5 separate regions of the Homo sapiens genome follow, and all the other regions are linked to region 3. The links come from fine-mapping of genetic effects on gene expression. A gene starts in region 3. Each other region holds a variant in brackets. All regions are shown on one strand. Distances are between the middles of the regions. Region 1 overlaps FBXL4 (F-box and leucine rich repeat protein 4). Region 2 overlaps PNISR (PNN interacting serine and arginine rich protein). Region 3 holds the start of FBXL4 (F-box and leucine rich repeat protein 4). Region 4 overlaps FBXL4 (F-box and leucine rich repeat protein 4). Region 5 has its middle 38 kb from the start of FBXL4.

Region 1 (5,107 bases), 21 kb after region 3:
AGGTATCAGAAAGTAAGGCTACTGATGTGGAAAAAAGTGGTTGGAAAAGAAATGATAGAGGAAGCGAGACTTAACGTAAAATACGAAGAGTGGTTAGAACTTGATTGGGTTTGCTGGGTTAGACAAGAAGAGATTGGTCCAGCTTGAAGAGAGCCTTAAAATACCAAACCAAATAATTTAGATTATATCTTGCAGATAAGAAAAAGGCATTGGAGGTTTTTCAGTGGAAGGGACATTTAGTGCAAATAATGTTTTATAATCTTAGTGCTGAAGTTTTGGAAGACTAGTGCATTGCTCTATTAAAGAAAAGTTGGGGCAGGGCGTGGTGGCTTACACCTGTAATCCCAGCACTTTGGGAGGCCGAGGCAGGCAGATCACCTGAGGTCAGGAGTTCGAGATCAGCCTTGCTAACATGGTGAAACCCTGTTTCTACTAAAACTACAAAAAATTAGCTGGGCATGATGGTGTATGCCTGTAGTCCCAGCTACTCAGGAGGATGAGGCATGAGAATCGCTTGAAACCAGGAGGCAGAGGTTACAGTGAGCCGAGATTGCGCCAGGGCACTCCAGCCTGGGCGGCAAGAGAGACACCCTGTCTCGAAAAAAAAAAAAGAAAAGTTGGTACATCTCCCTTCTTAGAAGTTAAACTCAAGACTTTACAGGTACAAAAATAAGTTTGTTTTATAGTTCCTTGTTGTCAACAAAAGTTTACCTACTCAATGAGGATGGGCCCCAGCCTATGTTGTAAATGAGTGGAGCTGGCTGGGAACGAGAGTGGCCACTGAGAGAGCTCATGCCTCTTGGGATCTTGTTGATTGTTAAAGGTTACAAACTAGATCAAATTTTTAAAAAACACTGTTTGGCCTCAGTGAAATATGTATACAAACATAGTTTGAAACAAAAGCTGTGAGTTTGCAACCTCTTTATAGATAGCGTTCATTATTAAATCTTTATTATATTCTATCATAACATTTAAAAAATACATTATTTAAAATTGTGTACAAAATAGAAAAATGTGGCCTGTTTGATTTGAAGGGTTGAATAAGTGGCTATTTATAATTTTGGATATTTTGACTTTGTGACTTGGACATAAAAATATTTTCCAAAACTCTTTTCTTACAGGTAAAAGAATGTCACATGTCAGCATTTGTACCTGAAGTCAGCATGCAAAGTTCAGGGTACCTGGATGAATGCCAACTTTTGCATTTCCCATGTGTATCCTGTGACCATTCTATCTGGGGTGAGTGATTTCTAAGAGTAGCTGGCAACAAACCAGATGCCAGCCAGCCATGGACTGCCCTAACAAATAATGCTAGGAGTTATAAATTAAACACTGATCTGTGATCTGTGATGTGTAAGGCAGTTAATGTAGTTCATCTGGATTAACTGTCAGCACCAAAGAACTATATTCCCATAATGTGAAATCTGAATTCTGTATGTTTGAAAGAGAGTAATAATTAACAGTAGGGAATTTTTGTTAACATGTAAAATTACAGCAATGTCTAAGATTATTTTGAATTTACAGCAGTATTTTAGTGGTTCACCATATAATTTAAATAATTTTAATTTTCAGATTCAAAGACTTAGTATTTCTTGAGTGATGGTTATAATTTTGTATAAAATACGGCTTTTTGGATTGTATATCTTCCAATTGCCTTATAATATAGTTTTGCTTCCCATATTGTATGCATAACAATATTTAGGTTTCTTAAAAATACATTAGAAAATTTATTTATACCAGACTTCACATTTGTATTTTAAAACTTGTTTTTTTAGTTTCATTCTGAGAAATTACATTGAGGGTAGAGCCTGTTCATTACCTTATCCATGCATTTTTCTGCTTATTTAAATTATTTTACTTCACCAAGCCATTCATTTTTTTAGAACATCCTTCAAAGAGTTCATGCATCTTACTGAGGACACCTGACCTTTTGAAGCTTCATAATTCACATCTAGATGTCACCGGTCTTTCCCATGTTAACAGTTCTGACCATGTTTTATTATATATGCCTTCGGCGCCGAGCCAGGACAGCTACAAGAGGAGAAATGATGAACACCCATAGAGCTATAGAATCAAACAGCCAGACTTCCCCTCTCAATGCAGAGGTAGTCCAGTATGCCAAAGAAGTAGTGGATTTCAGTTCCCATTATGGAAGTGAGAATAGTATGTCCTATACTATGTGGAATTTGGCTGGTGTACCAAATGTATTCCCAAGTTCTGGTGACTTTACTCAGACAGCTGTGTTTCGAACTTATGGGACATGGTGGGATCAGTGTCCTAGTGCTTCCTTGCCATTCAAGAGGACGCCACCTAATTTTCAGAGCCAGGACTATGTGGAACTTACTTTTGAACAACAGGTGTATCCTACAGCTGTACATGTTCTAGAAACCTATCATCCCGGAGCAGTCATTAGAATTCT[C/T]GCTTGTTCTGCAAATCCTTATTCCCCAAATCCACCAGCTGAAGTAAGGTAAGACTAATTTTTTAATGACCTAAGTTATATGGTAGAAAGGTTTTGGTTGTTAATATTGGAGATCTTTTTTATTGCAAGCATTCTTTTAAGTAACTTAATTGAATTTGATTTTGAAAATTTTCCTTAGTTTTCTGATGGGGAAGAGAGATCACTCATATAAAGATTTAATTCAGGCTTTATACCTGTAATACCTCATACTGTAATATTCATGGCTTATGATATTTGTATCTCATAAAATTTACCAAAACCAAAAAGCACAATTTGAACTCATAGGGACATGGGCCATTCTGGGACGTTAGTACGAAATATGACTTTGAAAATATTTTCAAACAGGCATCATGTTACTACTTTTAAATCTTTTCAACAACTCACAATAGGCCTGTGAGTGACACTTCAGAGGAGGTCCTTAGGGGATTTGGTTTAACGTTAGTTGAATGTTTTTGCAACACCCATATTCATTTAAAAATCAATGTTGCTTTAAGTAATTCATGCATTCTCCCTACAAGCCTGTTTTGCATAACAGCTCCTTGGCTGTCGTTTTTGTCATTCAACCTCCTAATTTTACAAAATATTAATATAATGCAGTCTCACATGTACCCTGTTCTCCATGTGCCTAGGACCCATTCCTCCCTCGAAGAAACCACTTTTATCAGCTCATTTTGTATCTTTCCAGAATTTCTTTGTGCAGACACAAGCAAATACAAATATAATTTTATATTTTTATACACAAAAGTAAGCATATTTATCACACTGTTCTGTACCTTGTTTCACACAGTAGTATATGTTGGATCTTTTCTTGTAAGTACAAAGAGAGCTTCCTCATTCTTTCCTGCATTTGCAAGTAATGCATAGTGTGTATGAACCCCAACTTATTAACTAGTCCCCCATTGATGGGCACTTAGTTGTTTCTAGTCTTTTGCTCTTATAAACATTAATGCAGGGAATGACCTTATCATAAGTCACTTTGCATGTGTGCAAGTATATCTGTGGGATAAATTTCCTAGAAGAAGGCTACTCAACCAAGGATAATTTGATAATTTTGTAATGTTTAACATTTTTTTTTTGCATTTTAACAATTTATTCTTAGTTACATTTAATTTTAATTTTTAACAGTTGTAATTTTCATATGTAATGCCAAATTTCTCTCCAAAGAGTCTGTACTATTTATATTCCCACTAGCAGGGCATGTACATGGGTGTTTTGCCAAAGCCTCGCCTACAGAGTATGTTTATAAATTTCAATATTTTTGCAATTTAATAGGTGAAAAATGTTATCTCATGTTAACTGTTAAAATTCTTTTATTATCTCTGAGGTTGAAATCTTTTCATATGTTTAAAAGCCATTTATATTTCTTTTTCCTTTAACTATCTGATCATATTATTTGCTCATTTTTTCTATTACTCATGGATCTTAGCAGTTTCTAGGACTTCATATCACTTTATTAAATCACTCGTTCATTAAATATTTTAGTGCCTACCTAATGTGCTAGGTGTTGTTCTAGGTATTAGAGATGTGTCAGCGAGCAGTGAACAAAATAAATAAAAATTCCCGCTCTCATTCTAGCCTGAGAGCAGATCAGGGCACCTGTTCAACTGTAGGGATGGCCAGCTGCCAGTGCAGGAGGAGGCGGGCAGAGGTCAGCTGCTACCTCCGTAACATGCAGCTCCTCTGATATCTCTGTCCCCTCATCTCTAAGGGAATACTTCCAGGGCCTGCCAGAAAACATACAGAGTACAGCTCAACTTGGAGATTGCTGGTATAATCTTTACTTTTTTTTCCAGAACTACCTAATAATTCATTGCAAATAATGTTATTAGTCGTTTTTTAAACTCAGAAAGCCAGCATACCTTAATTAAAATCAGATTTTTGTTTTCTCCCTAAGAGGAAAAAATGGAGTAGGATCTTTTGTTTTGTTTTGAGACAGGGTCTCACTCTGTCGCCCAGGCTGGAGTGTAGTGGCACGATCTTGGCTCACTGCAACCTCTGCCTCTCGGGTTAATGAGATTCTCCTGCCTCAGCCACCTGAGCGGCTGGGATTACAGGTGCGTGCCACCATGCCTGGCTAATTTTTGTATTTTTAATAGAGATGGGGTTTCACCAGGTTGGGCAGGCTGGTCTCGAACTCTTGACCTCAGGTGATCCGCCTGCCTCGGCCTCCCAAAGTGCTGGAATTACAGATGGGAGCCACTGTGCATGGCAGGATCTTTTCTTATATGAGAATTGTTTTATTAGGACTCTGACATTCTTCTTACAAAGTTACCTACTTTTTTCCAAAAATCTGAAAAGATTTAGGGAGGAGATCAATGGAACATGTAATGTGTTTTCTCCAGTCTAAAACTTAACAGCTGCATAACTAATTTTAAGTACAAATCATGCTCTTGGGTTACTGAGAGTTACTGGTATATGGTTGTGATTAAAGTTAAAACTTTATTTATACCTGTATCTCTAATTTTCTTTACTGATTTTCAGCTTTAGTCTACTGAAAATACCATTACATTTTAAGAGAAAAAAAGGTGACCAATATATTATTAAGATATAAGAAAAAGCCTTTTTAAATTTTACTGATTATGAAATCAATAGATGTTTCATTGTTTAAAAATAATCTAGAAAATACCAAAAAAAAAGGAAAATATATAT
Region 2 (5,107 bases), 460 kb before region 3:
AATTAATATTAGAAATGGGTTAAGAGTGTTTTTTGTGGAGTTCTTTCCTGAAAGTGTAAGTAGTTTATATTATTTTTTAGCCTGAATATGGGTTATTTGCTAAGTACCCTTTCAGACACAGTATGCTTTAATATTTAAGATCTCATTCAAAAAAAATTTTTCTAATTTCCCTCATACCCTCTCTGTCTGAAATATTTAAGATCTAAGGAATAGTTGAGCTGCTTATTTTACATAGAGGCACTATTCTTTTAACTCCTACATTCTGAATGCTGAAGTCAGTGTTAATTTACGTTAGGCCAGATTGATTGGGCTGCATTGGCCCAAGCTTGGATTGCCCAAAGAGAAGCTTCAGGACAGCAAAGCATGGTAGAACAACCACCAGGAATGATGCCAAATGGACAAGATATGTCTACAATGGAATCTGGTCCAAACAATCATGGGAATTTCCAAGGGGATTCAAACTTCAACAGAATGTGGCAACCAGGTTTGTTGTTTATGTTTTCACAATTTTAAGACTTTTAAAAAACAGAATGAAGATTATTATTAAATTTTTTAATTTGCTTAGTTGTATGACTTCTGGAAATTAATGCTTCTTAAAGAATAGGCAGTTTTCAATTTGATTTGACTTTGACATTTTGTGGTTAAAATTATTCTGTACTCATTCTGCTAGCTTTGTGGCACTCAGTTTGATTCTTTTCTTGGTTCTTCATTCCTAGGCTGACAGGGGCTGGGAACACTCTGGAAACCTCACTTGGCATCTAGGGAAGAGAGCATTCTTTGTCTCTCTATTGCAACCTCTGGCCTTTTCAGAAGCAGCACTGGCAGAGTAAAACATGTCTAGCCTCTAATTAAAGAAAAATTGTGTCACTGTGTGACAAATTAGTCTGTCAAATATACTCTGCCCCTACCATCCGCCTACCTTTTTCTTCCCTTTTTTTTTTTCAGATAGTGAAGATCTTTCATAAGTTTTTGTGTGTTTTACTTTTTTGTTTGTTTTATTTCACAGTATGATGTAGATTTCTTGATGCTAATTCAGTCTTCCATGGCTTGTGTTATTCCTTTTTAATAGTCACTTGAAACTATGGAGGAATCAGCCTCTCATTTGGGTATGCTGATGGTGAAGTCATAACCTCCTTTCCCTATTAATACTTTTTGTTTCTCCTTATAAGAATGGAGACCTCAGTCGAGACCAGCCTGGGCAACATAGCAAGGCCCTGTCTCTACAAAAAAAAAAAAAAAAAAAACCTTAAAACTTAGTCAGGCATAGAGGCGCATGCCTGTAGTCCCAGCTACTTGGGAGGCTGAGGTGGGAGGATTGCTTGAGCCTAGGGGATTGAGACTGCAATGAGCTGTGATCACGCCACTGCACTCCAGCCTGGGTGACAGAATGAGTCCCTCATTTAAAACAAACAAACAAAAAAAACGAGAATTCAGATTACTTTTAAAAACATAAATATTCTAGTCTTTGATACTGTGAGGTGGTTCATTTCTAGCTTTCTTGAAAGTGAAATTTCCCCACATTTGAAAATGTTTTAGTTCCTAAGTTTAAGTTCTTAAATGACTCCCGCGGGCATCCCTACCCCTTAGTTTTACTCTACTTTGTGACCCTGGGCAAGTGATTTACCTCTGTGTGCCTCGATTTTCCCTCCCGAAATTGGCAAAAATAATACCTAATTTCTCCCTACCTCACAGGGATGTTGTGAGGATAAATGTGTTCGTGTAAGAAAGAAATTATATAAAACCTCAAGGTATTATTTTTGTGGTGTTGTTACTAAACAAATATAAAAATTCAACAAAAATAGTGCTTTGGATTTTGTTACATTTGTTAAAAATAACTTTGGGCATTTGGTTAGGATATGAATTAGAGTGGAGTTAGCTCATTTTGAATTATATATGACAGTTTAGTTCATTGCTTATTTTTAAGATAAACAAAAGGAATTTGACCAAGAAGTCATAAGTTGTTTTTTAAATCTGTATGTTTACTGAAAAATCTTTCTTGAGATCTTAAAATTCTGTGTTGATTTTGTTATAACCGCCTGTTGAATGTTTTTATGCCTAAATCTTAAATAGAATGGGGAATGCATCAGCAACCCCCACACCCCCCTCCAGATCAGCCATGGATGCCACCAACACCAGGCCCAATGGACATTGTTCCTCCTTCTGAAGACAGCAACAGTCAGGACAGTGGGGAATTTGCCCCTGACAACAGGCATATATTTAACCAGAACAATCACAACTTTGGTGGACCACCCGATAATTTTGCAGTGGGGCCAGTGAACCAGTTTGACTATCAGGTGAAAGATATTTTGTTGCTTTAATATTGTAGATGTGCACGTAATCCATTCTTTGGAAGTGTCTCATCAAGAATACCTAAGATACGTGTTTCACTTTTCAGACTTGTATAAATAAGCACATTCTGTCTCAGTTATCAATTTTTGAGTATTAAAATAATTAGAATTTGTTTTCTGATTTTTTTATTTCATTAGGAAAATGGTATAAAAGATCATTACGGAAAACTTTTGAAAAAATTAAAAATGTATAAGTGCAATAGCTATATGATGTTTTATTTTCTAATTTATATTTCAAAATGGTATATTTAAATGTTAAAGACTAGAGAATGCACAGTAATTGAATATAGCTCATGGTTAAGACATGAATAAAAAATATAGATCATTTTCCTAAGTGTAATTCCTTGTGCTATGTAGAATTATGACTGTTTTTCTAGTGTCATTTTTTTTCCATTCTGACATGACATGTTAATGGAATTGTATATAATTTCCTCTGTAGCATCCAATTCATTCCTAGGGACATAGAACTCTGTGGGGAATAGTGTTGTATGTTGGGCTTTATTTACTTCATTCCCTCTGCCAGGGTCTACCCTTAAATTA[T/C]AGTGCTAGGTGTCATTTTGAAATAACTGATTGCAATTATTAACTTATAAACTGCTATCATAATTTAAAATTTTGAAAGAATTATTTCATGAATTCTAGGGTAGATTTGATAATGGACATCTAGTATTCACCTTGAGATGGTAATCCTCTCATTAATAAATATTCAGATACTTGTATACTTGGTATACAGATACAACAGTTTTTATGTTGTTTGAAGAAATATAATGGCAGGGAGCATCTGCTTACCCTACTTTTGCATGGTAGATCCCATGTAAACAAGACAAAGAGCTGTATTGGCAGCTGGCCTAGAAAAGCCTCTGAAAATAGCAAAATTGCAGAAAATATTTAATGATTCATTAACTTCTATCTTTGCTTATAAATGAATATATCTGCAAGATTATAGAAACAGCTTAAGTTGTTTAGTTCACTTTTTGTTCACTGTAAGTAGGATGTTGAAATTGACAAAAATGTCTAGTTAAAGAGAAATTAGTATCTATTTGATGTCTTAGTGTTGGTAGGATTAGCTTGTAAATGGATTCAGAATGAAAAATTTCATATACTTCTTGAAAGTAGCTTATCAGCTGGCTTTTAGAAGCCTCTTTGCATTTACATAGCCGGAAAATCTTAAGACAAGTAAGCCTAGGTTCTTGGGACCATAGAAGTATCGGTGGATATTAGAGCCATGGAATTCTTGGATGTGCTGCACACATGGATTTCTACTGTCCCAGTTCATAACACACGTGTGTCCCAGAGAGTATATTGTATTAATTTGAAGAAAAAATAAACTGCAATACTCTTTCAGCATGGGGCTGCTTTTGGTCCACCGCAAGGTGGATTTCATCCTCCTTATTGGCAACCAGGACCTCCAGGACCTCCAGCACCTCCCCAGAATCGAAGAGAAAGGCCATCATCATTCAGGGATCGTCAGCGTTCACCTATTGCACTTCCTGTGAAGCAGGAGCCTCCACAAATTGGTAGCTATTTAACTTAGTTTAGTGGACCACAATTGGCATGACTTTTTTATCATATAAAAAGGATGTCTTGTTTTCTTAAAATTGTTTGAGTATCTCTGATGTGTTAGGAATTGACACTTTATTTTTTATGGTCATAAAGCTTAAAATTACAAAAATGATACTGGTCTGAAATTAAAAGGTTTAAATAATTTTATTTAAACCTTTACATTAAATTCCAGATTTTGTGATGAAGTGAAAATTTATGCTAGCCATAGCATGTTGGTATTTTCTTCAGTGTAGGCATTTCAGTACATTATACAGATATATGAGCCCTTCTCCTTTTAAATCTAATTGTTCAATCTCTGTCCACTCTTAGTTCATCTGATGCACTGCTGTCAGATTAATTTTCCTCTGGTTATTTCACTTCCCTTAAGTATTTTGGCAGAAAATTTCAATTTTTTAAATAACATTATAGAGCCAGCCTATTTCAAGTGACAAATACATATTTATGCCACTTTATATCTGGAAAGTTCTAAATTGTTCAGTATTTAATGGACAGGAGCATTTGTTAATAAATCTTTACTTTTTACATTTTAGGAAGATTCTAACTTTACTCCTTTTTTAACTTACTAGCAAATCACTTAATTTTTTCGAGTCTCAGTTTCCTCACCTGTGGAAAAAAGTGGAGTAATAGTAGTGATCTCTGAGGGCTTTTGTAAGGATTAAATTAGATGATGGTTTAACATGCTTTCATTGTGTCCTGGCAGATTGTAAGCACTAGAGCAGTGGTCCCTGCTGTTACTAAAAGTGATGGCATTGAAGAAAGGCATGATATTTAATGGGATATTTTTTAAATTTACTCACAAGTTTGTAGAAATATTTTACTTAACTGACTTGCGTATATTTTTCCCACGTGAAACAGACGCAGTAAAACGCAGGACTCTTCCCGCTTGGATTCGCGAAGGTCTTGAAAAAATGGAACGTGAAAAGCAGAAGAAATTGGAGAAAGAAAGAATGGAACAACAACGTTCACAATTGTCCAAAAAAGAAAAAAAGGCCACAGAAGATGCTGAAGGAGGGGATGGCCCTCGTTTACCTCAGAGAAGTAAATTTGTAAGTAGAATCCCCAACATGAAACTCCATGTGAAAATCTTGGTTGTGTGAAAACTTTACTGAAATAGATATTTTAGCCTATAGGAAAGTATTAGAGTGATGTTCCTAAGATTACGTTCATTAAGTATATTGAGGATTCTGATTTTATATATG
Region 3 (5,107 bases):
ATATAAGGAGCTCAAACAACTCAATAGGAAAGCAAAAACAAAAACAAAAACAAAAACAAATAATCCAATTAAAAAATGGGCAGAAGATCTGAACAGGCATTTCTCAAAAGAAGACATACAAATGGCCAACTGGTATATGAAAAAATGCTCCTTATCACTAATCATCAGATAAATGCAAATCAAAACAATGAGATATCTCACCCCAGTGAGAATGGCTTTTATCAAAAAAAAAAAAAAAAAAAAAAAGCCAGGAACAAAAGATACTGGTGAGAATGTGGAGAAAGGGGAACCCGTGTGCACTGTTGGCAGGAATGAATATTACTAGAGCCACTGTGAAAAACTGTTTGAAGATTCTTCAAAAAACTAAAAATAGAACTACTATATGATTCAGCAATTCTACTATTGGGTATAGATCCAACAGAAAGGAAATACATATATCAAAGAGATATCTGCACTTCTATGTTTATTGCAGCACTATTTACAATAGCCAAGATTTAGAATTGACCTAAGTGTCCGCGCAACAGATGAATGGATAAAGAAAATGGGGTACATATACACAATAGAATATTATTCAGCCATAAAACCCTCCACAAAATCCTTTTATTTGCAACAAACATGGATAGAACTGGAGGTCATTATGATGAGTGAAATAAGCCAAGCACAGAAAGGCAAATAATGCATGTTCTCACTCATATGTGGGAGTTCAGAAAGTGGATCTCAGAGACTGAGAAGTATTGGGGGGGTGGGCCATGGGGGAGCAAGGGGAGGTAAACATACACTTAGAAGAAACATACACTTAGAAGAAATAAGACCCGGTGTTCCATAGATCAGTAGGGTGACTACAGCTAACATTTATCAATAGTACATGTCAAAATAGCCAGAAGAGAACAATTTGAATGTTCCTAGCACAAAGAAAAGATAAATATTTAAGGGGATGAGTAACCCAGTTATGCTGATTTGATTACAGAAATGAATCAAATTATCACATATACCCTGAAAATATGTACAGCTATTATGCATCAAAAAGTTGAAGAAAATAAAAATTTTAATTTTTTTGTATACAATGTATATTGCATATCATATATTGATTCTGTTCATATATAAGTAAATATCCTTACTGGTTTGCCTCATTGGAGCATTCAGACAGCAAATAATGTGTAGTTCAACATTTTATTAAATATTTTCCATCTTAGTGGATATTTTGTAACAAGATAAATATGATGCAAACTAAAAAAAGTGCCAAGGGCGGGCGCGGTGGCTCACGGCTGTAATCCCAGCACTTTAGGAGGCTGAGGCAGGTGGATCACAAGGTCAGGAGATCAAGACCATCCTAGCCAATATGGTGAAACCCCGTCTCTACTAAAAATACAAAATATTAGCTTGGCGCCCTTGTAGTCCCAGCTACTCGGGAGGCTGAGGCAGGAGAATCGCTTGAACCTGGGAGGTGGAGGTTGCAGTGAGCCGAGATCGCGCCACTGCACTCCAGCCTGGCGACAGAGCGAGACTCCGTCTCAAAAAATACATAAATAAATAAATAAAGTGCCATACTGAATCTACCAAAAATAAATCAAAATGAGTAAGAGAGGCTGCCAGACCATCTTCTTCATCAGAGGTAATGGTCAGAGGCTTCTGAACGTTGGTATGGAAATGAGCCTGCAGGCAGGATTTGTATGCAGGGAAGAGGAGGTTTGTAAACTAGGTGAATTATACCTTCAGAGTGCATATAATGTATATTATACTTTTCCTCTACGTATGCGTACCAGCCGTATTACCTATGTATCATCTGATCCACCAAGTCTGGACTGAAGAAGTCCTTGTAGGACCACACTACACATGGCGAGCCGGTACTCGGAAGGGATTATTCCGAAGAGGATTTGTAGACACTACCCGCTGTGTATGACCTAGGCCCTTTACACGGGCACCACTGGAGCTAGGAAGCCAGCAGAAAGCTCCTCCCCCTGGCCTGGGAGCGGGCTGTCCGTAGGACCCAGAGCACCTCCCATGGGAGAAACGCCCGGCTTTGCTTCTGGCCCCGCCCCGCCTCCCTCCAGGCCCCGCCCCGCCTCCCCGGCCCCGCCCCAACCCCGCGGCCCCGCCCCTCCTCCCCGGCTCCGCCCCGCCTCCCCGGGCCCGCCGCTCCTCGCGGCCTCCGCGTCTTCCTTCCGGGTCGCGCTAGGCCGGGCTTGCGGCGGTTGTGCCGCATCTAGAGAGTCGGGGAGCCGCCCCCGCACCCAGGCCTTCTCGCGCTGCCTGGTCGCTGGTGAAGCCCGCGGCGCGCGCCTCTCCCGGACCCTGCAGGGTACGGCCCTTCCTTTACTTCTCCCTCCCGTGGGTCTCTGTCTTCTTCCTTTGGCGCCGGGGCGGGGCCGGGGCCGAGCCAGCGCGCAGCTCCGCGCTTTGGGGAGTCTGGACGCCTGGCAGAGGCCCCCGCTGCCCGCCCCTCCCCGCCCGCGGCCCCGCGCCCCCGCGCCTCCGCTTCACGCTTGCGGGGCTTGCTGGGGCCCTTGAGAACTGCTGACGTGCCTCGGGCTCTTTCTACGCTACAGTCTGCCTGCAGGCTGTGAGGCGTCGTTCGGACGTGTGCGCGGCTCAGGGTTGTTTACACCGCGGGGGACTGCGGGTCGCCCCACACCCGCGCTCAGTGCTGCGCCGGCAGCCACGCGTCGGCCACATGCCCGCCTGTGCTTGTGATTCCTGTGCCTGCTGCCTTGATTTCCCTCTGACATCCGATGGTTTTTGCCTAACCAGGCCTGTTTTCTTTCTTCAGGACTGCTACAGGGTGCCCAGCTACAACCTTGTTTCTGTGTTTAGGTTTAGGGGTGCCCCTAGAGTGTGATGATGACCATCTACTTGGCCTCCTTGTCGACATATTTATAACGGGTGGTTTTGGATTTCCTTGATTTCCCAGTAATCATTGCCACAAACCTTCGAGATGCATTCACAGATTGAAATACAGTATACAAATAACTATTATAGAAGGTGAAGATGGTATAAGCCTGTGGTCAGGTAGTTGCGTTGGCAGGATGCCCGTCTGGCTTTGTGCTCCGGAGGGCACATTACCACCAGGTGCAGGGATCTCTGCTTGCTTTGGTCTGTTCACAGACACAAGCTGCCTTTTCTGGTTCTTGCGTGCACTCCTTGGTTTCTTAAGTTCAGCTATAGGTATATATTTTTTTCTTTCAGGCTCACTTCCTGCCTCCATTATCCTGTACCGCATATTGTATCTGTTGGTTGAGTAGAGAGAGATTCATCCAGAGTCATCAGCGCTCCAATAGTCCTTTATCAGATTAAGGACTTGAGGGAAATGTGCATTATGCTTTAGTAGGCACTCTAAAAGTTCCTTGAATTGGATTCTTCTTTCCATACTTATGTTCTGAGTACTAACTTTGTTTTAAACTTCTGCGCCAAAAGTTGGCTTTTCTGAACTCTGCATTTTCAAACTCTTCCCTTCTGTTATTTGAAAATCAGATAAGTCAACTCATTGTAAGATGGATAATTTCTTTACTCACGCCGTGATGAAATAATGCGATTATAGTACTCTGTACAATGGTACATATGGTACTTGCACATATGGTCAGTTAACAAAAACTGCCCCTTCTTTCTTTACTGTGTTAGTCTCATCCTCTTAATGTTGCTGCGGTTAACATTCTCGATCTTAACTTCGCGGATCTAACACAGTGTCCTTTAAAAAAGGCCTTTATCTACATGAATTGTATATAAATATCCACCTCCGTTTTCTTCTAGTATTGTTAATGATCTTATTTATATTTAATGTGAGATAAGAAGGCTCTAACTTTATAATTTTGTTAGTGACTCCATCATCATTTGTTGGAATTCTATTTTTCCCTGCTGATCAGTCCTATAAATACCATAGGCCCTAAATTCCCGTGTATTCTTGGGACTTTCTGAACGGTCTAGTATTCTTTGGCTCCCTGTGGTGATCCTGGCTTCTGTGATGCTCTTATTGCTCTAGGTTTATAATGTGTTTTAATATCTAGGGATTTGAACGATGCCTGGCATATTGTAGACATCACTAAATATTTTTGAAATGAACACATTTAGTGGGGGCAAGTTGATTCCCTTTCTTTACCTCTTGCCTCCCTCCCCCCTTTAAAATTTTCCTGCCAGTTATTGAGATTCATTTATTTTAGCTTGCTTTTTCCATGGTCAGTTGAATCATTAACTGTTAGTAAATAAATCCCTTCTGTTGCTCATTCAGAACTTGCGACTAGAGTTGCTCCTTACAGTTACATAGAGAAGCAGCCTGATTAAAAATCTGCATGCCTTTTGACTTTGCACCGTGTCATAGTAACTGTAGTGTGTCTCTCCCCATCACCTGTGATTTAGGATGTTCTGTACCTGGTTTCTAAGAGAAAAATGGTTATCTAAGAGATAAATGGCTGTAGAAGTGTTCCCTGGGATATGAGGAAGATATCCTCATATCCATTTGTATTTTACCATCACAACTGGATATCTAAAATATAATAAATTTTACACTGGACACTTAAAACTTTATTAGCCCATGAAATAAATGTATGCATTCTTTAAAAAAGATCAAGCAATACAGAAATCCTTAAAGGAGGAAGTGAAAGTGCTGTGTGCCCACCTACCCAGTAACCTTGTTCCATAAAGATGATCACTGCTTGCAGATTTTAAAAATAAATATATTTAAGTCTACTTTTGTTTCATAAATGGCAGTGTACCATCTATAATTTTCTATAGCTTCCACTTAATAATAATTGATAAACATCCTTCTGTGTCAGTGCATATAATAGTATCTTGTCTTTTTTGTAAGTCTTTTGGTATTTCATTGTAGGAATAACCCAAAAGTTATTTAGCCAGTCCCCTGTTGGCATTATTCCAAATTTATTACAAACAGAACTGCAAGGATCATTTTTGTGTTTATTCTGTATACTGTCATGTTTGCATGTTAGTTCATTTCCTAAGATATGGAATTGCTAGGTCAGAGGCTACACATAAGTGTTAAATTATGAGAGATTCTGCCAAAGTGCTCCTCAAAAGTTGTTGGTAAGAGTAAATTTATACAATTTGTTAAAATATTGCTTTTGCCATATCACATTGCCAAGAATTGTCAAGGATCTGAGAT
Region 4 (5,107 bases), 37 kb after region 3:
TATTCTCGATGGTCTTTACATTTTGGCGTGATTTTGCAGCAGCTGGTACCGGTTGTGCCTTTCCATGTTTAGTGCTTCCTTCAGGAGCTCTTTTAGGGCAGGCCTGGTGGTGACAAAATCTCTCAGCATTTGCTTGTCCGTGAAGTATTTTATTTCTCCTTCACTTATGAAGCTTAGTTTGGCTGGATATAAAATTTTGGGTTGAAAATTATTTTCTTTAAGAATGTTGAATATTGGCCCCCACTCTCTTCTGGCTTGTAGAGTTTCTGCCGAGAGGTCAGCAGTTAGTCTGATGGGCTTCCCTTGGTGGGTAACCCGACCTTTCTCTCTGGCTGCCCTTAACATTTTTTCCTTCATTTCAACTTTGGTGAATCTGACAATTATGTGTCTTGGAGTTGCTCTTCTTGAGGAATATATTTGTGGCGTTCTCTGTATCTCCTGAATCTGAATGTTGGCCTGCCTTGCTAGATTGGGGAAGTTCTCCTGGATAATATCCTGCAGAGTGTTTTCCAACTTGGTTCCATTCTCCCTGTCACTTTCAGGTACGCCAATCAGACATAGATTTGGTCTTTTCACATAGTCCCATATTTCTTGGAGGCTTTGTCCGTTTCTTTTTATTCTTTTTTCTCTAAACATCCCTTCTCGCTTCATTTCATTCATTTCATCTTCCATCACTGATAACCTTTCTTCCAGTTGATTGCATGGGCTCCTGAGGCTTGTGCATTCTTCACGTAGTTCTTGAGCCTTGGCTTTCAGCTCCATCAGCTCCTTTAAGTACTTCTCTGTATTGGTTATTCTAGTTATACATTTGTCTAAATTTTTTTCAAAGTTTTTAACTTCTTTGCCTTTGGTTTGAATTTCCTCCTGTAGCTCGGAGTAGTTTGATCGTCTGAAACCTTCTTCTCTCAAGTCGTCAAAGTCATTCTCCGTCCAGCTTTGTTCCATTGCCGGTGAGGAACTGCGTTCCTTTGGAGGAGAGGCGCTCTGCTTTTTAGAGTTTCCAGTTTTTCTGCTCTGTTTTTCCCCCATCTTTGTGGTTTTATCTACTTTTGGTCTTTGATGATGGTGATGTACAGATGGGTTTTTGGTGGATGGCCTTTCTGTTTGTTAGTTTTCCTTCTAACAGACAGGACCCTCAGCTGCAGGTCTGTTGGAGTTTGCTAGAGGTCCACTCCGGACCCTGTTTGCCTGGGTGTCAGCAGCAGTGTCTGCAGAACCGCAGATTTTCGTGATCCGCGAATGCTGCTGTCTGATCATTTCTCTGGAAGTTTTGTCTCAGAGGAGTACCCGGCCGTGTGAGGTGTCAGTCTGCCCCTACTGGAGGGTGCCTCCCAGTTAGGCTGCTTGGGGGTCAGGGGTCAGGGACCCACTTGAGGAGGCAGTCTGCCCGTTCTCAGATCTCCAGCTGCGTGCTGGGAGAACCACTGCTCTCCTCAAAGGTGTCAGACAGGGACATTTAAGTCTGCAGAGGTTACTGCTGTCTTTTTGTTTGTCTGTGCCCTGCCCCCAGAGGTGGAGCCTACAGAGGCAGGTAGGCCTCCTTGAGTTGTGGTGGGCTCCACCCAGTTTGAGCTTCCCGGCTGCTTTGTTTACCTAAGTGAGCCTGGGCAATGGCAGGCGCCCCTCCCCCATCCAGGCTGCCACCTTGCAGTTTGATCTCAGACTGCTGTCCTAGCAATCAGCGAGACTCCGTGGGCGTAGGACCCTCCGAGCCAGGTGCGGGATATAATCTCCTGGTGCGCCGTTTCCTAAGGCCTTCGGAAAAGCGCAGTATTTGGGTGGGAGTGGCCCGATTTTCTAGGTGCCATCTGTCACCCCTTTCCTTGACCAGGAAAGGGAACTCCCTGATCCCTTGTGCTTCCCAAGTGAGGCAATGCCTCGCCCTGCTTCGGCTGGCGCACGGTGCGCTGCACCCACTGTCCTGCGCCCACTATCTGGCACTCCCTGGTGAGATGAACCCGGTACCTCAGATGGAAATGCAGAAATCACCCGTCTAATGCGTTGCTCACGCTGGGACCTATAGACTCGAGCTGTTCCTATTCGGCCATCTTGGCTCCTCCCCCCACAATACTTTTTTTTTTTCTTTTTTTTTTCGAGATGGAGTCTCGCTCTGTTGCCCAGGCTGGAGTGCAGTGGTGCCATCTCGGCTCACTGCAAGCTCCGCCTCCTGGGTTCATGCCATTCTCCTGCCTCAGCCTCCCGAGTAGCTGGGACTACAGGTGCCTGCCACCATGCCTGGCTAACTTTTTTTTTGTATTTTTAGTAGAGACAGGGTTTCACTGTGTTAGCCAGTATTGTCTCGATCTCCTGACCTCGTGATCCACTCACCTTGGCCTCCCAGAGTGCTGGGATTATGGGCGTGAGCCACCGTGCCCGGCCTGGAATTATTAATACTTTTTTGTTTGTCTAGTCTGAAGTCCTGTTTTCAGTGTGTCCCTACTGGGGTGTTTCTGAGGTATTTTAGCATCCCAGGCTCCCAGATATCAAATGCTAGTAGCATTCTAGGGCTGTGTGACATGAAAACCTCTCCCCACCAGTTTCGAAATATTCCTAGGGGTGAGAGTAGGGCCAAGCATTTCTGTCTCCCACTGAAAACTACTGTGTGGTTAAAAATGTATATCAGTTTTCTTTTTAAGGAAACTTTATAGACTCAAATTTTAACCAACTTAGATATCCCTTTTCCAAATTGATGTGTATTTCAGATTTCATGGAAATAACACAAATAGCTTAACTTTCATGAAACAGTAAGATAGCCTTTTGAATGTCTTAGAGTAATAGTAACTATAATGCCTCTCC[A/G]ACATATTACAGTTAAAATGCCATGGCACATCCTGTGAAGTAGCTAAAGTTGCCACATAAAGGTGAATTTAAGTGTCCAAGTTAATTTGGTCTTTAAGCCATGGGACCAGGATCCCACCCAGACCTCATGTGATGGAAAGGGAGCTTCACAGATTGGACAAAACTGGCCTTTACTGGGAGGAGGGAGGAAAGATGAAGGAAAAGCTGGGTTTGGGGAGAGAGAGGAGCATGAGATACTGACAGTGTTGCTCCTCAGGGCTCTGCGGTGGGTCTGTTGTTGCAGCAGTGGGAGCAATTCATCTGGAGGAGAGTGAATCGCTGCTTTGATTCTTACCCACTTGCAAAAACTGTAAAATAGAAATATAATTTCAGCAAATACATTTTAAACAGTTTATTGAATTTTATCCAGACCTGATAAAATGCTTGACCCATAGAATTTGAATGAAGGCCAGAAGACACTTGAGGCAAAGGGAAGAGAAGGTACAAAGATGAGAAGTGAAACTGTGTGACTTGTTTGGAAACTCCAGTATTTCAGTGTGACCAAAGCATAGGATTTGATAGGGGAGGCTGCAGGAGATGGAATTGGATGGAGGCTCAGGGCTGCCTCAGTGCACAGCTCCATGCACATAGATGACAGTGATTGGGACTCCCTGTCTTTGGCAGTGTGGAGTCTATTCTGCTGCGTCATAGAGGTCTGTTTGGGTTTCACCAAGAGATTTGCATTTTATCCCTTCAGCCAGTGATCTTCAGGGTGGTCCAGTATACAGCCAAATTAGTCAAGGGGAGTCACAGATACTTTAGACTTTGCAGATAATTTACTTTTGCTAAAAAATTAGAACATGCCCTAGAGTAGGAAAATACAATAAAGTAAAAATATCGGTTTTCCTTAATCAGTGTATTCAATGAAGTCCCAATTAAAATGCAAACAGAATTTTTTAAAATTGAAGTTTGCCTAAAAATATGAAAATACTCAGGAACATTCTGGAAAAGAAGTGTGATAGAGGAGTATTAGTCCTGATTCTCATTTGCAGTCAAACAATCCATGACATTCCAACACATATGCTTTAAAAAACTTAGTTATTTTACTTGGAGGACTATTGATATGGGAGAAATAGCATATAGATAAATGGAACAGAATAGAGTCCAGGAACAGGTCAAGAGGATAGTGGGAAATGTATCGACAACTCCCCTGGGAAAGTGTTATGTTTCTGTTGTTAAAAAAAAAAAGAAACACAAATAAAAACAGTTTTATATCTTTTCTTCCTTTTTTGTCTTTCAGAATAAAAACGTTTTGATACCAATGTTGTCTAGGATATAAGCAAAAGGGTACTTTCATACAATTTTTATGGATATATAAATTGATGGGAACATTGTGAATGGCAATTCTCCACTTGCATCAAAACTTCTAAATGCATGTAATTTACTATAAGGATATATTTTCAAAGTTTGCCAAGATGAACATACATGCATAATACATACACACAATGATATTGCAGTATTATTTGCAATAGGAAAAAAAGCAGGACATACATCAATGAGGAACTAGTTGAATTATGTCACTTCTATGAAACGGAAGGAGGTGGGTCTGTATGTGCAGATATAGAAAGATCTATAAGATATATCATTAAATGAGAAAAGCAAGTTGCTGAATGGTGTATATAGTATCATTCTTTTAGTGCAAATTCAAGAACAGAATTTCATACACATTTATTTGGAAGAGATCAGAAAAACAATGATTATCTTTGGGGAGAGGGATGGTTAGAACTGAGTGTAGAGAGGAAGAAACTTCTTATTTTAGACCTTTCTTTAATGTTTGGGTTTACTTTTTACTTGAAATTTTTGATTTTTGTTTGTGTAATATTTTACACATCAACAGGTGTATCTGGATGATGAGATTTGTTAAAGAAAAATTATTCAATCGTTCTAGGTATAGGGACCACTACAATGGGATTTTGCAGTGTCTGAGAGAGATTGGGTTCAACAGCATGGGCAAGTGGGAATTAATAGCCAAGGAGCAGATTAGAAAGTCAGTAAATTACTAAGAAAATTACTAAGAAACATCAGGAGTAAGGGAGATTCTGGCTACACCCTCTTTAAACTTATTTTAAAGATCATGTTGTTGTTACTCTGCGTTTTGTGATATTTTGGCTTAAAACAGTGAAAATCTGACCTGAAATTAATACTGAGCCTAGATAACAAAATAAATTGAAGAAGAGCATTTAGGTTAATTGCAAAACAAAAAGTTTAGCTAGATAAATACATTAAATTAAAAAAAACCCTCTCTCATCTAAATAAGATTTTTAACATTTAG
Region 5 (5,107 bases), 38 kb before region 3:
CAATGTAAAGGGAACAGAAGCTCTTATTTACCTGGGTGTAGCCATGGGCCTGTCAGCTGTCTCTGCTTTCCTGGCCAGGAATGACCCTCTGGGTGGCAGGTATCCATATCCTGTCTCTCTCATGAGATGAAGGTGTTCCAGGTGTTCGACAATGAGGGTTCTTGCTCTTTAGGAGACTTTGCAGGGATGTTGCATGTCCCACTGCACCGTGCCCTGACTTTTGAGGCTCACTTGGCTCATCTCTTCCAATGCCCCTACTTTCTTCTCTAGGAATACACCCCACTATGTCTTGATTCCAGTGTCCTCTCACTGTTGAGTTAAGTTCAGCTAATTATGTCCTTTGTGTCCATTTGATCCATGGAGAACCCAGCCATCTTTGCCAGACCAAATGGTGGGAGTAAGGCCACTTGTATAGTCTTCTCCTCACCTTGCCATCTCGCTCTGTTCTTTCTACTCAAAAAGGCACTGCGAGTAATGTAAGTACATGTTCAACCAGAGAGTGAGAGGCCAGTCTCTTCTTTTGACAGACAATCTCTACAAGCAATCCTCTTAAAGCCTTCTTCCTAATTTGGAAACTGTTAGGAAAGAGGAAATAGAAAGAAAACTCACAGTGTTCCCCACTGAGTTGATAACTTATGACTCCAGTAATTCCTTTGAATTCTCCCTCCCTGTTGTTTGGCCAATTCTTAATAAGCTCTGAGGAGGTATTTGTTTTTAATTGTTTTCTGATCTCTTTATAATATGAGGTAATTGATTCCTCTTTAGTTTCAGTCTTGGGTCCTAGATGCCAATTCCAGGGGAATAAAAAATATTTCTAATTAATATCTTATTATATCTTTCACATTTTTCAGTTTACTGTTCACAATTTATGCTACCACCTGACATCTTGAGGGGAGGAGGGGAGGCATTTCCTCAAACCCCAGCTTCTGAACACAGGCCTCCCTTCTGGCTCTATAAGTCTTCCATCCCATATATTCGTATATTCTTTCTGCTGATATTTTTGTGGCTTACTAGTGCCAGGTGCTTTTTGGGGGATGGGGGCAATAAAGAAAACAGAAAAATTGGCTACCCCCATGGAGATTACACTCTAGTTTAGAGCAAACATTCTCCAAACATTCTAGTTTAGAGCAAACATTCTCCAGGAGTTTAGCCGTAAGTCCTTTCAGGTTCTAAGGTATAATAATCTACCTACATGAATGTCCTGGGCTGGCCCAGATTCTTGTCCTTCTTCTGTCTGTCTGTCTGTCTCTCTCATTGACTAATTCTTAATCTGTCTTAGCTATACTCCTTTGGCTACCTACAAGACCTCTTTCTTTCTAAAACTGTCCTCTGCCTCTTGATCCACTCCACTGAGTTTAATTTTGATCTCTTGTACCCTGAAACGAGAACCACTGAACTCCTGGGTGATCCACACCGCTTCCTCATCTTTTAGAATAGATGTCTCCTGCCCCTTTGCTCCCACAGCTTTTGGCCATGCCTCCATTAGAGCATTGACCATACTTGAGGTCAGGGACTAGGTCATTCCTTTTTGTAACTCTCTCCCCCTCACAGACGCACACATACCACCAACTCAACCTCCATCACCATCACCCCCACCCATGCTACAGCTGTCAACACTACCATCTTTGTGCGTTGGACAGAGTAAGAATTCAACAGAAACTGTTTGAGTTGAACTGTTTATCTATTAGCAATTAACCTTTCACAATGCCAATGTAGTCTTTTAATAACTCTGCCAGGTCATGCAATATAAAGCCTCTTCCACTTCCAAGCTGGCAATGAGGACAATTCACTGCAGATGATTCTATGGGAAGTGACTGACTCTCACTGCTCAGCTCCCCAGTAGCTGTGACTATTGTAAGAATAACCAGAGGCCTCCAAATTCCATGTCCTCTTATGATCCATGAACTTGAGAAAGATAGATACATAAAGGAGAGATCTGTTTCAAAAAAGCTTTGCAGTGTTAAGCCAGCCTTTGAAACCTTATTTATTGTGTTTCATAATACGTCAATTTAGGACTCATGTTTGGTCAACTCTGCTAAAAAATGTTAGAATTGCAATCTGAGCTTCCTTTGTTAGTTTGAATTTTCCATAAAAGAATTTCTTCTATAATGAAAATAACCAAAAGGGCTTTCATTCATGAAAATATTTGAGGCATCTGAAAGCCTAGTACATGTAGGAGTACTTTTGTACTGGTCTTTTTGAAGGCAATTTCTTTTAACTCTTTTTTAACTGTATCAAAAATGTCATGACAGCTCTCTCGGTACTTGCTTCTTTACAAATGACCAAAAAATAGATGCTAATTTTATAAAAATATATTTCACTGGGAATGGACAAAAGTGAAGGGTAGATCAAGGTTAGTCACAGTCAAAAGAAAATAAAGATCAAAAAGCCTCCTGGGGTAATATGCTGAAAAAAAATGAATTTTCCAATGCCAATTTATGGCAAATTTTCTATGTCAATTACTGATTAAACAAAAGAATAAATAGAGAGCTTTACATGCCACTTGTTCTCCACCTGACTTGGAGAAATTGTGAACTGTACACACTTTCCCTAATTTTCCCCCTCGTTACTTGAAACTGAGCCAAAGCCTTGGCCATTGAGTTAGAGAATTGGAAGAGCAATCCCTGGAACCCTTAGCCACTCATTGTTCATTAGTAATGTGGTCTTTCAGGAGATCTTGGAGGAAAAAAGTCAAGTTTAACATTACAGAGGAGAATGTAAAGGAGGATTACATGAGGGATAGACATGGAGGGGATGATAGTCATTAATTTAAAGTGGTTTAGAACAGAGCTGGCTGTTATTTGTTTCTACTTGAGAAAACAGTAGATGATTACCCTGTTAATCCATTCAGTCATGTTACAAATATTTATTTTTCATCTATTATGTGCCGTGATGAAGAGAAATAGATAACTAAAGCTAGAGAAAAAAGCACTCAGGTAATAAAATTAAACTCACTTATTTTTAAATTTTTAAATTTTTAAATTCTGGCTTCCATGAAACCTTAAACATTTTTATATTTCTGGGGTTTTCTCAGAATTATGAAAGGCAAAGCAGAGAGGTTATGTC[A/G]GTGTGTTGTTGAAAATCACAGGATTGGTGATTACATTTGGTGTATCTCATAAAACAAAGTAAGTATCTAACATATTAGAAAATTAAAATTTTAATAATAAAATTGTTTATAATTGTAATAATATGTTAAGAGGGAGATTCTTTCCTTTCTATCCCTACAGAATAAATTCCAAACAAACATATATGAATAATTCAATAGCTTAGTAATTAAAAATACAAATTAAAATAGCGATGAGATACCTTTTTGCTTCAAATTGATAAATATCAATTTACAGTGATAGCGACTGTTGTTGGTGAGAGTTCTTGAAAATAGGCAACCTCAAATAGCTATTGGTAGAGGTGTGAAGTCATACAGTCTTTCTGGAGGACATTTTAATAAATATAAAAAGCTCTAAAAGTATTCATTCTTTTTAATCCCGCACTTCTACTTTGAGGAATGAAAGCTATACAAAGAGATAAATATCCAAGGATGTTTATCACAGCATTACTTAAATAGCTCAAAATTATAATCCTCTAAATGTCCAACAGTAGAGAATTGCTAAAAAAAATTAGATTGTATCCATATTTTGCTATATTTTAAAGTAATTCAAATCACACTGTAGAATTGTCAATGCATGGAGAAATGTTCACAATGTATTAAGCAAAAAAACCCTAAATGATGTAGAAGTGTATTAATATGTGTGAATTAGTCTGCTTGGGCTGGGCTGGCGTAACAAATACCATCAACTGGGTGGCTTAAACAACAGAAATTTATTTCTGGTAGTTCTGGAGGCTGGAAGTTCAAGATCAAAGTGTCAGTTGATCTGGTTCCTGGTGAGGGCTGTCTGCCTGGCTCACAGATGGCTGCCTTCTTGCTGTGACCTCACATGGCTTGGGAAGGGATGTGGCAGGGAGTTCTCTGGTATCTCTTCTTATAAAAACATTAGTCCTATCAGGCTAGGGCTTTGCCCTTTTGACCTCATTTAATATTAACTACCTTCCACAGGCCCTATCTCCAAATACACTGGGGCTTAGGGCTTCAATATTTGAATCTGGAGAGTACACAAGCATTCAGTTCATAATAACACATATATTGTCAAATATACAATGTGTGCTATATATACGTGGGAAAGAAGCCAGAAGGATATACATGAGGTATATTAAAATGTTAACAATGTTTGTGTTTGGGTAGTAGGATTAAGGGTAGTTTATGTTTTTTCTTTCTTTGTACATTTCTGTCATTTCAAAATGTTCTATTGAAAATGTATCGGAAAAACACTACAAACAGCATATGTGTTTTTAATTTCGACACCATAGAACCAGCCCTCACTGAGCAGACCATGTGCAGAGCAGGCTGCCCATTTCAGGGCTGGCCCTGGAATCACTCTGGGCAATGTATGCACAGCACAGTAGGGAACAGAGAAACTTGCTGAACTTCCAAAGGAACCCATAAGAGATAATACAAAGACAAAGCTTTCATGGGATTTCAAGAAACAGCTACTTTTCCAGGAAAGCCTTATTATAAACGAGGTTTCCAAAGAATATGAAAGCCAAATAGGAATAACTAACGCTTGAGTGGCACTTTTAACTTTTCCAAAGCACTCTCCCATTTATTAATTCATTTGATCTTCATAACAACTATGCAGGCAGGGCGTCTATTAGTATTCCTATTTTAACAATGAAGACATAAAGGTAGAGAGCGATTAAGAGGCAAACTCCAATCACAATTAGCAAAGTGGGATCCAGATGTCCCAGCTCTCAGTCCAGCACTCCTGCCCCTGCCTGGGCACCCTCACACATAACACAGCCTCTGGGAAAATCTAGGATTTTTTCAGCTCTTATTAAAAGAAAAAATTTCCTTAGCTTTCTTGTGAAAAGAATGAAGCCAAATAGGGCTGTAAGAAATAATGTAATTCAAAAGGCAAAATACAGCCTGCTATCACCCAGACGGAAGGCTTTGCAGCTAGTGTGTTATGTGGTTATTTCTGGTCTTAAGAAGGTGTCAGTTTTTTCATTGACTATATACTGTTGCTCATTTGCCCTGAGACCCAGACAGGTAACA

The links.
Region 1: its variant is fine-mapped to the expression of FBXL4 in whole blood (INTERVAL, PIP above 0.99). The same link has a PIP of 0.9 or more in lung.
Region 2: its variant is fine-mapped to the expression of FBXL4 in prostate (GTEx, PIP 0.96).
Region 4: its variant is fine-mapped to the expression of FBXL4 in whole blood (INTERVAL, PIP above 0.99).
Region 5: its variant is fine-mapped to the expression of FBXL4 in whole blood (TOPMed, PIP above 0.99).

Annotation. Positions count from the first base shown.
Region 1 is chr6:98,923,837-98,928,943 of GRCh38, reverse strand. It overlaps FBXL4 (F-box and leucine rich repeat protein 4), which reads left to right. Exons shown (of 10, transcript NM_001278716.2): 3 at 1,122-1,239; 4 at 1,884-2,467. The coding sequence starts at 1,956. Among named protein-coding and RNA genes, the nearest start is that of FBXL4, 22 kb to the left of the region's middle. The variant C/T (reference allele first, on the strand shown) is at 2,420.
Region 2 is chr6:99,407,928-99,413,034 of GRCh38, reverse strand. PNISR (PNN interacting serine and arginine rich protein) reads left to right here. Exons shown (of 12, transcript NM_032870.4): 4 at 296-484; 5 at 2,071-2,294; 6 at 3,691-3,862; 7 at 4,764-4,954. Among named protein-coding and RNA genes, the nearest start is that of PNISR-AS1, 14 kb to the left of the region's middle. The variant T/C (reference allele first, on the strand shown) is at 2,889.
Region 3 is chr6:98,944,998-98,950,104 of GRCh38, reverse strand. It overlaps FBXL4 (F-box and leucine rich repeat protein 4), which reads left to right and starts at 2,159. Exons shown (of 10, transcript NM_001278716.2): 1 at 2,159-2,299. RefSeq lists silencers at 1,738-2,032, 2,330-2,639 and enhancers at 1,765-2,276, 3,080-3,269.
Region 4 is chr6:98,907,644-98,912,750 of GRCh38, reverse strand. All of the region lies in intron 5 of FBXL4 (F-box and leucine rich repeat protein 4), which reads left to right. Among named protein-coding and RNA genes, the nearest start is that of FBXL4, 38 kb to the left of the region's middle. The variant A/G (reference allele first, on the strand shown) is at 2,797.
Region 5 is chr6:98,983,168-98,988,274 of GRCh38, reverse strand. No RefSeq gene overlaps it. Among named protein-coding and RNA genes, the nearest start is that of FBXL4, 38 kb to the right of the region's middle. The variant A/G (reference allele first, on the strand shown) is at 3,067.